Regions from separate parts of the Homo sapiens genome. Here all the other regions are reported to be linked to region 2. Evidence: microRNA targets listed by miRTarBase, many of them from high-throughput screens and not tested one by one. Region 2 holds a microRNA gene; each other region holds the end of a gene's coding sequence.

Region 1 (3,122 bases), not on the chromosome of region 2:
AAGCCTTCAGGTGTCAGAAATCCTTTCGAGTCCATATGATCATGCACGCCGGAGGGAGACCGTATGAGTGCAAGCAGTGTGGGAAAGCCTACTGCTGGGCAACATCCTTTCAACGACACGTGAGAATTCACAACGGGGAGAAACCCTATAAGTGTGGAAAATGCGGGAAAGCATTCGGTTGGCCCTCATCCTTACACAAACACGCGAGAACGCATGCTAAAAAGAAACCTGTGAGTGGGGGCAGCGTGGGAAAGTCTTCCGCGAGGCCTCGCCCCTCCACAGATGTCAAATCACAAACTAGAGAGAAAGTCTATAAATGTGAAACGTGTGGGAAAACGTATGGTTGGTCCTCATCTTTACACAAACATGAGAGAAAGCACACTGGGGAGAAACCTGTAAATGCAGCCAGTGTGGGAAAACCTTCAGGCGGGCTTTGCTCTTCCAAAAATGTAAGAACGCAGATTGGACAGAAGCCCAGTAAATGCGAAAAATGTGGGAAAGCTTTCAGTTGTCCCAAAGCCTTTCAAGGTCATGTGAGAAGTCACACAGGAAAGAAATCCTGTACATCTAAGTAATGGGGGAAAACCTGTGCAAATTAATTCACATACATGGTTCAGAAAATTCACAGCAGGAGGGCCGGGCGCAGTGGCTCACGCCTGTAATCCCAGCACTTTGGGAGGCCGAGGCAGGCGGATCACGAGGTCAGGAGATCAAGACCATCCTGGCTATGGTGAAACCCCGTCTCTACTAAAAAAAAAAAAAATACAAAAAATTAGCCGGGCGTGGTGGCGGGCACCTGTAGTCCCAGCTGCTCAGGAGGCTGAGGCAGGAGAACGGCGTGAACCCGGGAGGCGGAGCTTGCAGTGAGCCGAGATGGCACCACTGCACTCCAGCCTGGGTGACAGAGCGAGACTCCATCTCCAAAAAAAGAAAATTCATGGCAGGAGAAGAATCTCATGACGTTTATAAATATGGTATTGCCTTTATCAGGACCACATCCTAAAAGTGGGCCTCTAGCAAATGAATTTGCAGTTCTCTTGCAGGTAAAGTTGAGGGGAGAATCCTGTAAGTCCTCTCTCACCTATAGTACTGAAATTTTGATACATAATGGTTTTTTCTTATAAATTACTAATGTTTCTCTTTTCATTTAGAAGTGTATTGCACCCATGGGTGATCTGATGTATTTTAATATGCATTAACTTTAATTTTTATATATTTTTTTTGTTACTCCGTGTGAGGCCATTAGACCAATGAAATATGGGTGTTTGTTGACATTTTCTGACTGGCCCTGTGTGTTCCAAGCTGGATATTACTACCATGTTACTTTTATTCCACCTTTCCATTTTACAGGGAAAAACTATTTTTAATGTTAATACTTTCTACTTATACAGGCAAGTAATTCAGTGGCTTTATGCTATTGGTCAGAGAATCCTTCTTCATTTTGCTTGTGGACTAATAGGTAGTTGGTAGAAATACGTATGCATGCAAATTCTTGGAGGAGTGTAGTCTCGTGGGAACTATTTTTTTCATCTGTTGCTGTTTGCTCTTTGACCTGGCTTCTGGGTTGGAATTGGAAAATAGGTTTTTTTGGGTTTTTTTTCTTTTTCTTTTTTGAGACAGAGTCCTGTTATGTTGCCCAAGCTGGAGTGCAACGGCACGATCTCGGCTCACTGCAACTTCCGCCTCCCGGTTTCAAGCGATTCTCCTGCCTCAGCCTCCCAAGTAGCTGGGACTATAGGCATGCACCACCATGTCCAGCTAATTTTTGTATTTTTAGTAGAGACGGGGTTTCACCATGTTGGCCAGGGTGGTCTCAAACTCCTGAAATCTGCCCGCCTTGGCCTCCCAAAGTGCTGGGATTACAGGTGTGAGCCACTATGCCTGGCCATATTATCATTATCTTAATACCTCATTGTCTCAGTATTTCTTGTGCTTCTGTGTTCCTGCTTCCATGACAGATACAATGGTACAACCATAAAAACACAGGGGATTGCGGCTGGGCGCGGTGACTCACGCCTGTAATCCCAGCACTTTGGGAGGCTGAGGTGGGCGGATCACGAGGTCAGGAAATCGAGACCATCCTGGCTATCATGGTGAAACCCCGTCTCTACTAAAAATACAAAAAATTAGCCAGGTGTGGTGGCGGGCGCCTGTAGTCCCAGCTACTCGGGAGGCTGAGGCAGGAGGATGGCGTGAACCTGGGAGGCGAAGCTTGCAGTGAGCTGGAATCGTGCCACTGTACTCCAGCCTGGGCGAAAGAGCGAGACTCTGTCTCAAAAATAAATAAATAAAGAATAATTTTTTAAAAAAGCACAGGGGATTGTTTCCCTACTGCATCTACTGTGACCTAGTATTCTTCGTGAGATAAATCTTACCTTTCATGAGAAAATGAAAGACAATACTGGCTTATCAGGTAAACTCTGGAAATTTCCTGTCACATAGAGCTGAATACAATCTCTCAGTATGTGTTCAGTTATTATGTTTGATTATGTATTATTAAAACAAAAGTTTCTGTTTCTGAGAAATATCTATTTACTGTGTTTGTGTTTTTAAAGAAGTTGGATTCTATACAAATGGATAAAATGTTTCTTAGAAATAGCCTATTTAACTGAGTTTTTCAAATAAGTTGTATACTAACAAATGTCAATCTCTGTTTTTTATTTACTGGGAGAATGTATTAAAATATTGAAAATTGCCAAATCAACATGGTGACTTTAAAAATGATACTTCTGGGCCAGGCACAGTGGCTCACGCCTGTAATCCCAGCACTTTGGGGAGGCCAAGGCGGGCAGATCATGAGGTCAAGAGATCGAGACCATCCTGGCTAACACGGTGAAACCCCATCTCTACTAAAAATACAAAATATTAGTGGGGTGTGCTGGTAGGTGCCTGTAGTCCCAGCTACTCGGGAGGCTGAGGAAGGAGAATGGCTTGAACCTGGGAGGCGGAGCTTGCCAAGATTGCGACACTGCACTCCAGCCTGGGTGACAGAGCGAGACTCCGTCTCAAAAAAAAGAATTATACTTCTGAATTAATATTACCAGATGCATTCAGATTTAGACATTTTCTTTCTAGTACATTTGTTTCCTATACTGTTATAATTTTGTCTAAGAAATTCTTTT
Region 2 (3,122 bases):
TCTGGGACACATGCCCGTCTCTCTGTGCCTCAGTTTACTTCTCCATGTACTGAGGGACACAAAGATCCGCTCCAAGGCCCTCCCAGGTCACTACCACCTCCTAGAGAGGGGCAGAGTGTGCCCCTGGGCCACTTTCGTGCAGTGAGAGGGCACATCGTGAGGCCCGAATCAAACCCAGGGCTCCTTCCTTTTATTTTTTATTTATTTATTTTTTCAGACAGGGTCTCACTCTGTTGCAGCGGCTGGTGTGCAGTGGCTAGATCATAGCTCACTGCAGCCTTGGCCTGTGAGGCTCAAGCGATCCTCCCACCTCAGCCTCCCAAGTAGTTGGGACTACAGGTGTGCACCACCCACCTTGCTAATTTTTCGTTTTTTGTGGAGACAGATTTGGCCATGTTGCCCAGGCTAGTCTCAAACTCCTGGGCTCAACCATCTGCCTGCCTTGGCCACTCAAAGTGCTGGGATTACAGGTGTCCGTGCCCTGTCCTGGGGTCCCTTCTGAACGAGGCTCCTTTGGTGTGGATTCAGGAGACACAGATGTGGGAGAAGCTGAGATCTTCCAGGAAGGACACAACCCTGGGAGCACGTGCCTGCTGAGACAGCCATGATGTTTGCTTTCAGCCAAAGCTGGAAGATTTAGTTCTGTTGCACACATGGCTGCTGAGCATCTGCTGGGTGCCTGTTCCTGGGCCAGGGCCTCCTGCTCTCCAGAACCTGGAAGGCTGGGAGCAGAATAAGACAGATCTAGAGGCCTCACGTCTTAGGGTGAGGGGTCACCGGCCCCAGCTGGAAGTGGAGGGGAGGGACTTACTAGAGGCCTCCTAGAAAGTGTGACCTCCCAAAAGTTACTAGAATGATTGCTGGTCAAGCACCTGGACCCTTCTGGTCTACGATCACCCTGGTGGAGCTCTGGAGGATGAAGGGCAGCCTGTGGGGAGAGTCCGCTGGGAACAGCATGAGGAAGGGCACCGGAACAGCAGCAGCCAGCTGGCTGGTGACTGGCGAGAGTCTGGGCCAAGGTCTGGCTCACAAGGATTGGGTGTTCCTGTGACTTCCCACAGGGAATGGGGAGCTCTGGAAGGGGGTAGGGTTTAAGCAGGGAGTGGCAGATCCTTGTGCCTGCACTGGCTACCGGGGAGGGTGACGACTGCAGGGAGGTGACCTGAGTCTCTTTGAGAGCTGTGTCCTTCTCAAGGACTTTGTGTACTTTGAATTCCCTAAGAACTAAACATTGCCATTTTGGGTCAACATCGTGATATATATTCTATCATTATACTTTTTATTAGGCTTAGTAACTATTATAATAGCAGTGTTCTCATGGAGCCTCGGAGGATCAAAGCCCTTGCACGGATGTTTTCTCCATGGCCATTGGGATGTCTACTTGTCAGCAGATTGGCAGATATTCGATGACACCCTCACAGTCCCCCAGGGAGTGATGACTTCTGGATGAGGTTGGCACTAGGGCTGCCATCTCAGAACCCAGAGTAGGCCCAGGGGTGGTATCTCCGAAGGAGCCGAGGATTCTCCGTGATGACTTGCAAACTCAGCAGGCTCCAGCTCGGTGGCACTGGGGGAAGGCTCCAGACCCCAGCCTCTGTCATCCCTGCATGGAGCCCACATCTCCAAGGAGGCTGGGAGATCCTGTTTGGGGGTCAATTTAAATGTGAAGGAGCAGAATACAGAGAGTTTGGGAACCCAAGGAGGGGACAAAAGACAGAATCAGGACCCAGTCTTAAATACGCTCAGATTGCTGGGCACCTCCTCATGACAGGCTGGGCCCTGGGTACTGGATGCTAGGATGAATGAGAAATGGCCTCTGCCCTTGAGGGGCTCACAGACACCAGAAAAGACAAACCAGGAGAGTCAGAAAAAGGAAGAGCAAGGTGCTGGGGAACTGAGCCCCGAACCCCATTTCCCACTCTTACTACCCATGCCCCCTGCATGTGACATGGCCAGAATTTGTCCCTGCCTTGTGCCTTTAACTGTGGGGAATCCTGGAATTTTCTAGAAATCCAATTTCACAGAATGAAAGTTTTTCTTTTTCAGAGGTGATCCACTAAAACTTTAACTTAATTTCATTTTATGCTTCTTTAAAATTCGTTGATGTAAATAACTTACAAATCAAAAAAAGCCAAATTTGGTTTTGGAAATTACAGCCTGCACAGTTCACACATATGTGTGCACACATGCACAGGCACACACACAAAAGGTGCTGCCCACCGTGGGAGCTCAGCCTGAACTCGCACATGTGGATACATGTGCTTGGGCTCAGACCCCAAGCAAAGGCCAGAAGAACAGCTGTCGCTCTGTGAGAATTGGCTGGAAGCTGCAGGGAACACCTGTAGGAGCTGTTGGGGAGCCCTCCTGCCTCTGGCCACCTGTGTTGGGGTAGGTCAGGTAAGGAGTGATGGAGAAAGGTGGAGCGATGGTGGACAGGACGGGCGCTTCTCCAAGCATAGCCTGCTGCTTTCTTACTGCTTCCCCTGGGCTCATTTCAAAGGTGCCTGCAGTAGCACAGCCCAGTTGGTCACTGGGTCCCATTTCCCTGGGATGAAGATTTGGGCCCAGCTCAGCTGAGGGAACACGGAGGGTGAGGGAAAGGACATGAAGTGGGACTCAGGATGTGCCAGGCACGTGACATCTGGTCCTTCCACCCCCCCACGGACCTGGGCAGGGTTCCTCACCCGCCTGGGCTCAGAGAGGTCAGGCTGCCAGCCCACAGCTCACAGGGTGGGTGACTGAGGAGGTTGCATTCTGGCTTAGATCTGACATGCCGAAGTGCCATGGCCTGTGCTACCAAGAGGAAGGTTCAGAGGAGCCAGGGCTCTTCCCCTGACCTCACAGGCTACTGCGTCCTCAGACAGCTTGTGTGACAAATGGGTAATATTTCCCATGCATTTGGGAAGAGGGCAAGATCAGCAAGATTTCCCCGAATAGCATCCACCTTGGGGAACCACTCTCTGCCAAAAAAAAAAAAAAAAAAAAAAAAAAAAAAAAAAAAATTGTATTGTATTCTATGCATTTCATGACATGTAAAAGGTTGGGAAGTAAATAAAATATAAGAAGGTTCTACTATGTGCCAAGGCTGCTTCTGTTTTTATTTTTTGGCTCCACTCCTGCCC
Region 3 (3,000 bases), not on the chromosome of region 2:
CATAGACTCCCACCTAGGTGTTACATTGCAAGTCATGGAGAACTCCAATCCTCAGCTGTTACAGAGAAGCATTCTTTGCAAAGAAGAGCACAGGCACTGGAGTCAGATTGCCTGGGTTCAAATCCCACCCGGTCTACATAATACTGAGTCACTTCTCTGTACCTCAGTTCCTTCACCTATAAAACAGAGATAACAGAAGTATCGACTTTATATTGAGATGTCGCCAAATATGAAATGACGAAGTAGGCAGAGCCCTTAGCGCACAGCCTACTGAGGGATGAGTATTCACTGTTAGCTATTTTTACTATTAATACTTCTGTAATTGCCACCAGTAATGATCGCTGTTGCCTCCCTTCCTGCCAGTACTGTATCTGGACGGATGGACTGAATGCGCTACTCGGGAAGGACATGATGAGCGACCTGACGCGGAATGACCTGGACACCCTGCTCAGCATGGAAATCAAGCTCCGCCTCCTGGACCTGGAAAACATCCAGATCCCTGACGCACCTCCGCCGATTCCCAAGGAGCCCAGCAACTATGACTTCGTCTATGACTGTAACTGAAGTGGCCGGGCCCAGACATGCCCCTTCCAAAACTGGAACACCTAGCTAACAGGAGAGAGGAATGAAAACACACCCACGCCTTGGAACCGTCCTTTGGTAAAGGGAAGCTGTGGGTCCACATTCCCTTCAGCATCACCTCTAGCCCTGGCAACTTTCAGCCCCTAGCTGGCATCTTGCTCACCGCCCTGATTCTGTTCCTCGGCTCCACTGCTTCAGGTCACTTCCCATGGCTGCAGTCCACTGGTGGGACAAGAGCAAAGCCCACTGCCAGTAAGAAGGCCAAAGGGCCCTTCCATCCTAGCCCTCTGCAGGCATGCCCTTCCTTCCCTTGGGCAGGAAAGCCAGCAGCCCCAGACTGCCCAAAAACTTGCCCACCAGACCAAGGGCAGTGCCCCAAGGCCCCTGTCTGGAGGAAATGGCCTAGCTATTTGATGAGAAGACCAAACCCCACATCCTCCTTTCCCCTCTCTCTAGAATCATCTCGCACCACCAGTTACACTTGAATTAAGATCTGCGCTCAAATCTCCTCCCACCTCTCTCCCTGCTTTTGCCTTGCTCTGTTCCTCTTTGGTCCCAAGAGCAGCAGCCGCAGCCTCCTCGTGATCCTCCCTAGCATAAATTTCCCAAACAGTCCACAGGTCCCATGCCCACTTTGCGTCTGCACTGTGATCGTGACAAATCTTCCCTCCTCACCAGCTAGTCTGGGGTTTCCTCTCCCTGCCCCAGGCCAGAACTGCCTTCTTCATTTCCACCCACGCTCCCAGCCTCTTAGCTGAAAGCACAAATGGTGAAATCAGTAGTCTCGCTCCATCTCTAATAGACTAAACCTAAATGCCTCTAGGACGGACTGTTGCTATCCAAGCGTTTGGTGTTACCTTCTCCTGGGAGGTCCTGCTGCAACTCAAGTTCCACAGGATGGTCAAGCTGTCAGACATCCAAGTTTACATCATTGTAATTATTACTGGTATTTACAATTTGCAAGAGTTTTGGGTTAGTTTTTTTTTTTTTTTTTGCTTTGTTTTTGTACAAAAGAGTCTAACATTTTTTGCCAAACAGATATATATTTAATGAAAAGAAGAGATACATAAATGTGTGAATTTCCAGTTTTTTTTTAATTATTTTAATCCCAAACATCTTCCTGAAAATAACATTCCCTTAAACATGCTGTGGAATAAAATGGATTGTGATGATTTGGGGAGCTGGTGTTTTGATTTAGTAACTTAGGTTCTTGCTACTCAGTCATCAGCATCACCTGGGAGCTTGTTGGAGATGCCAGCTCTTCAGCTCCACCCTAGACCTGCTGAATTGGGTGATGTTTATGTACATTGGTTTGAAAAACACTGCTGTGGGAAACCCTCCACCATTGCTAGGTCACCATAGGCTCTGAGCATCAGTGGAGAATGTTACTTCTAAGAAGACCATCTCGACTCACTGAGAAAATCAGACCCACTGTATGAAAATATCTATTCCTTTTACATTGCTGTCTCTTGACCATGACTTTCTCTTTTTTCTTTCTTACCATGATATAATTTATAGAATGGGTCTAATTAAAGACATCACAACTTTGAGGGAGCACATTTAGCAATGAAAAGAATGCATACCCACAGACCTGAAATAAGCCAGAACTAAATAAATCTAACCGTGGGTTAATAAATTATAGGTCAGAGCCCAGCGAAGGATGTTTCTTAAGTCATTTGCACTGGAGGCATTATCAGGATTGTAAACTCCCAGCACTGGGAGGGATGTCAGAAGGGTCCAAGCATGCAGTATTAAGCGTGGCACAGCACCAGCCACTCTGGCCTCACAGCACAAGCTGTGGAAGCATCCAGGTCATTTCTCTTTACCGTCATCAGGATGTGCAATTACAGATTGACCTGGGTTGAGATGATATGGTCCAGAGCACTGCATGCATTGCAGGAAAAAAGTCCTTTGCATTCACAGGGGTTCCTTCTTCCCATCAGAGCACTCACACCTGTGTCAAGCTGTTAATTCCTTGATCATTAAGCTTCGATGTTATTAACATGTACTTGCTATCAGGAGCAGTTATTAATCTACCCATCATCATGATAAAACAGTAAGTGTTAGGTCAAAGGCAGCAAACAAAGTCATATTATTTTTTTCTTATGGGTTACAAGATCCAATCCATGAAAAAGGGAACTTTCTGGACCAGGATCTCTGAGGTCCTGAGACACTGGGTTTAAGAAATGTATCTGTCCTGTGACCTTGGTTGGGGAGATCCAGCCCCTCTCTCTTCTGGCACTCCAGCTTTGGTGCATTTAATAGAAAGAAACCTTTTCAGGACTATGAAAGGCAGCATTCTCCAGCTCCTCCCTAGACCCTCCTTTGGACCTGTGAGATCTGAAGAGTATGCCATCTGTTTCCATTCATTTTGTGACCATGTGGGGAAGGATTGTTGCCCATATTTGGCCACCTCAC
Region 4 (3,122 bases), not on the chromosome of region 2:
GAGGAGTTCGCCTTCGCTGTGCGCTTTGCGGGGACCCGGGCGCGCACCTACGTGCTGGCCGCTGAGAGTCAGGATGCCATGGAGGGCTGGGTCAAGGCCCTGTCGCGTGCCAGCTTCGACTACCTGCGGCTGGTGGTGCGCGAGCTGGAGCAGCAGCTGGCGGCTGTACGTGGCGGGGGTGGCATGGCCCTGCCCCAGCCCCAGCCCCAGTCCCTGCCCTTGCCCCCGTCCCTGCCCTCTGCCCTGGCCCCAGTCCCATCCCTGCCTTCTGCCCCAGCCCCGGTCCCAGCCCTGCCCCTGCCCCGCCGGCCCAGTGCCCTCCCGCCCAAGGAGAATGGCTGCGCTGTCTGGAGCACTGAGGCCACCTTCAGGCCTGGACCCGAGCCCCCTCCACCACCGCCTCGCCGCCGGGCCTCGGCACCCCACGGGCCCCTGGACATGGCCCCCTTCGCCCGGCTGCACGAGTGCTATGGCCAGGAGATCCGGGCCCTGCGTGGCCAGTGGCTCAGCAGCCGGGTCCAGCCCTGAGGCCACCAGGGCGCCTGTTTTAGGGGGACACAAGCTCTATGCCCTCTGGGACAGGCCGGGTCCTGGAGAGACTGGGGGAGCAGATCCTGAGGGAAATCATGGGCAAGGCTGGCCCCCAGGCCCTGAGTGGCCTGGTTTTGGGGGATGCAGGCTCTGAGAAGGTGCTGGATTCTGAGTGGGCCTTTAGGACCATGTGACCCAGAAGGCCTACCCTTGAGGGGAACGTCACGTGCAACACTAAGGAGAATCCAGGGCCTGAGGGGGAGGTTTCCTGAGAACTCCGGCCCCAGGCTGGCCTGAGCTGCCGGGCAGAGGCCTGTGCTGGCAACAGGCATTGCCGGGCCTGCAGCTCAGAGGGTCACTGGGACTGAGGGCGATCTGTGGCCTGAAAAGCAAATGCACAGTTAGTGCAGCTCCTGACCAGGCCTTCAGGGTGGACAGAGGGAGGATCGGTCATGGCAGCCACACCTGGGCCTGGCCTTGCTCCGGGACCTGCCAGAGGAGCTGGCCTGGCTCTGTGCCTGCCTGCCTCCAGGAGCAGGACGGTGGCTGGGAGGGTAGTGACTGGGGACACAGGTGCAGGTGTTAGTGCAGGACCGGAAGGGTGAGGTGGCCTGGTCCTCGGGGCTCCTGGCCTGGGCTGGCTGAGGCAGGACTCTGCCAAAAGTCCCCTGCCAGGCCTCATGGTGGTGCTCCTGGTGGCAGTGGCTCTCTGGCCGCGGGCCCTGTCTGTGTCTCCGTGGTGGCTCTCACAGGGCTCTCCAGACACTCCTTGACTGCATCCTTCAGTCTTGGCCCCTAGGCCTGGGGCCCCTTGGGAGCTTGCCTGACCTCCCTTCCTGGGCTGGGTAGCCATGGCCCGAGGTGACCTTCTAGCAGGTTCCCCCAGGGAGGGGAGGCCACCAGCTGACTCACCGCCTAGGAAGGCCCAGGTGCTGACCTAGTGGCGGAGAAAAAGCCGCACACCGAGTGTGGCTTCCAGAGCCCCTCTTCAGCTCCAGGCAGCCCCCTCTAACATGTCCCCTCCTGAGCTCAGCCCCCACCCCCATACTCCTGGTGGGGACCAGGTCTTGCTTGGCTTCGGGGCTGACCGCCGGTCCCCTTTCTTCTCACCACAGTGCCCATTTTTCATCCAGGGAGAACCTCGGGGCTGGGACACCTCCTGGCCCTCACCCTGGGTCATGTTTACAGTCCTCAGTGCCCCACACCGGTGGCCCCCTGAGGACACCTCCACCCTGACCTTGATTTTCCCAAACGCTGCCTCTTGGTGACAGACTCAGCCCAAAACCCCTTCCTTCTGTCTCTGGAGACCCTTGAGCTTGGGGAAATATGGAGGGGTGTGTGTCTGCAATCAAGGCCTCTGCAGCTCACGGCTGGCCCGGTGGGCTGGGACTTCCGTCTGAATTTTAAATACTTAGGGTTCATTTTTTTTTCTCTGGCAACAAAGCTTGATGTTTTCACTGCTTTAGTTTCCTGTTTGCTGGTGGGAGGGGATACGGTCTGTGACTCTGGACTTGCTCTGGGGGAACAGTTGTCACTGCCCCCGGGGAGAGGGGCAGCTTGGGCTGGAGAAGCACAGCCAGAGACAGAGCCCCTCGAGAGGGATCCTTGGCTGCTTCATTGTCTTCCCCCCAGCAAGCCCTGCTCTCCACAGGCACCTCTGGGGTCTTGGTATGGTCCCCGCTCACCTCCTTCCAGAGTCCTGAGTGGTGTGGGTGTGGGTGGCACAGGATCTGGGGCATGGGAGGGGTTCAGAGCTTCCCAGAGCCCCGTGTCCTGGCAGACTCAGCTGGTGGGCTGGGGTGTTAACCCCAGTCCTGGCGTAGGTTTACAGACTCTCAAGGTACGTTGGCCCTGGTCTCCTGGGAGAGAGGGGTGAGGGATGTCCCCTACCAAAGCACAAGGTGGGATCAGGCTGCCTCCTGGGTTGGGTGTCGGGGGAGCTGTCCGGCAGCCTGGCAGGGAGATGCAAGGGCTAAAGTAAAATTTTGTCAAGTAATGGCTGATTGTGTCATTTTTTTTCCCCATCAAAATCCTTGATTGATTTCCCTGGCAGAGCCCAGAGCAGGCTGTGCAAGGGCAGGGACTAGTGTGTGGTCCCACATGGCTGGTGCCCTGCCAGGCACGTTCTCACTTCTCAAGGCAGATGCTGGTCCCGTTTTACAGATGTGGAAACAGGCTCACTGAGGTTATGAAACTTGCCAAAGCCACATAGCTAGAGAGTATAAGAGCAGGGATGTAAATCTCTGAAATCCCGTGACAGGACAGAGTCTTCAGGAGGAATATGAGGGAAAACGGAGCCCAAAGTTCCTTTTCAGAAGGTAGAGAAGGCAGGGAGAAGCCAAAGATTTGAAAGCTAACTGGGCTGAAGACCTGAGAGTTGGGAGGGACATTAACAATCCTGATCAGGATGGCAGATGGAAGAGTCGAAACTGCGTGCTTCTCACTGATAAGTTCATGGAGGCTGTGGAGGGAGCTGGAGTGAAGAGGATTCTAGCACCAATGCAAGTTCAGAGGGAAAGAGTCTGTGATTGATTAGTAAAATCTGCCGTGAGCACCATGTGGCTGGTAGTGGTGCTCATGCCATGTATCCG

Evidence for each region. Region 2 holds the annotated microRNA hsa-miR-4267 (UCCAGCUCGGUGGCAC, at 1,553-1,568, shown strand). A microRNA usually pairs through its seed, bases 2 to 8, with sites in the 3' UTR of a target mRNA and lowers its output. Matches are read on the target gene's strand: a 7mer-m8 pairs with bases 2 to 8, a 7mer-A1 pairs with bases 2 to 7 and ends in A, and an 8mer does both.
Region 1: miRTarBase lists ZNF556 as a target of hsa-miR-4267. Seed matches in the 3' UTR shown: 7mer-A1 at 1,301-1,307, 7mer-A1 at 1,640-1,646 and 8mer at 2,220-2,227.
Region 3: miRTarBase lists ELMO1 as a target of hsa-miR-4267. Seed matches in the 3' UTR shown: 7mer-m8 at 1,761-1,767.
Region 4: miRTarBase lists PHETA1 as a target of hsa-miR-4267. Seed matches in the 3' UTR shown: 7mer-m8 at 1,030-1,036.

The regions. Positions count from the first base shown.
Region 1 is chr19:2,877,755-2,880,876 of GRCh38, forward strand. It overlaps ZNF556 (zinc finger protein 556), which reads left to right. Exons shown (of 4, transcript NM_024967.3): 4 at 1-3,122. The coding sequence ends at 575. Among named protein-coding and RNA genes, the nearest start is that of ZNF556, 12 kb to the left of the region's middle.
Region 2 is chr2:110,068,463-110,071,584 of GRCh38, reverse strand. It overlaps MIR4267 (microRNA 4267), which reads left to right and starts at 1,543; the gene lies at 1,543-1,624.
Region 3 is chr7:36,853,115-36,856,114 of GRCh38, reverse strand. ELMO1 (engulfment and cell motility 1) reads left to right here. Exons shown (of 22, transcript NM_014800.11): 22 at 364-3,000. The coding sequence ends at 564. Among named protein-coding and RNA genes, the nearest start is that of MIR1200, 65 kb to the left of the region's middle. RefSeq lists an enhancer at 926-1,427.
Region 4 is chr12:111,360,084-111,363,205 of GRCh38, reverse strand. It overlaps PHETA1 (PH domain containing endocytic trafficking adaptor 1), which reads left to right. Exons shown (of 3, transcript NM_144671.6): 3 at 1-2,527. The coding sequence ends at 528. Among named protein-coding and RNA genes, the nearest start is that of PHETA1, 7.4 kb to the left of the region's middle. RefSeq lists an enhancer at 794-1,450.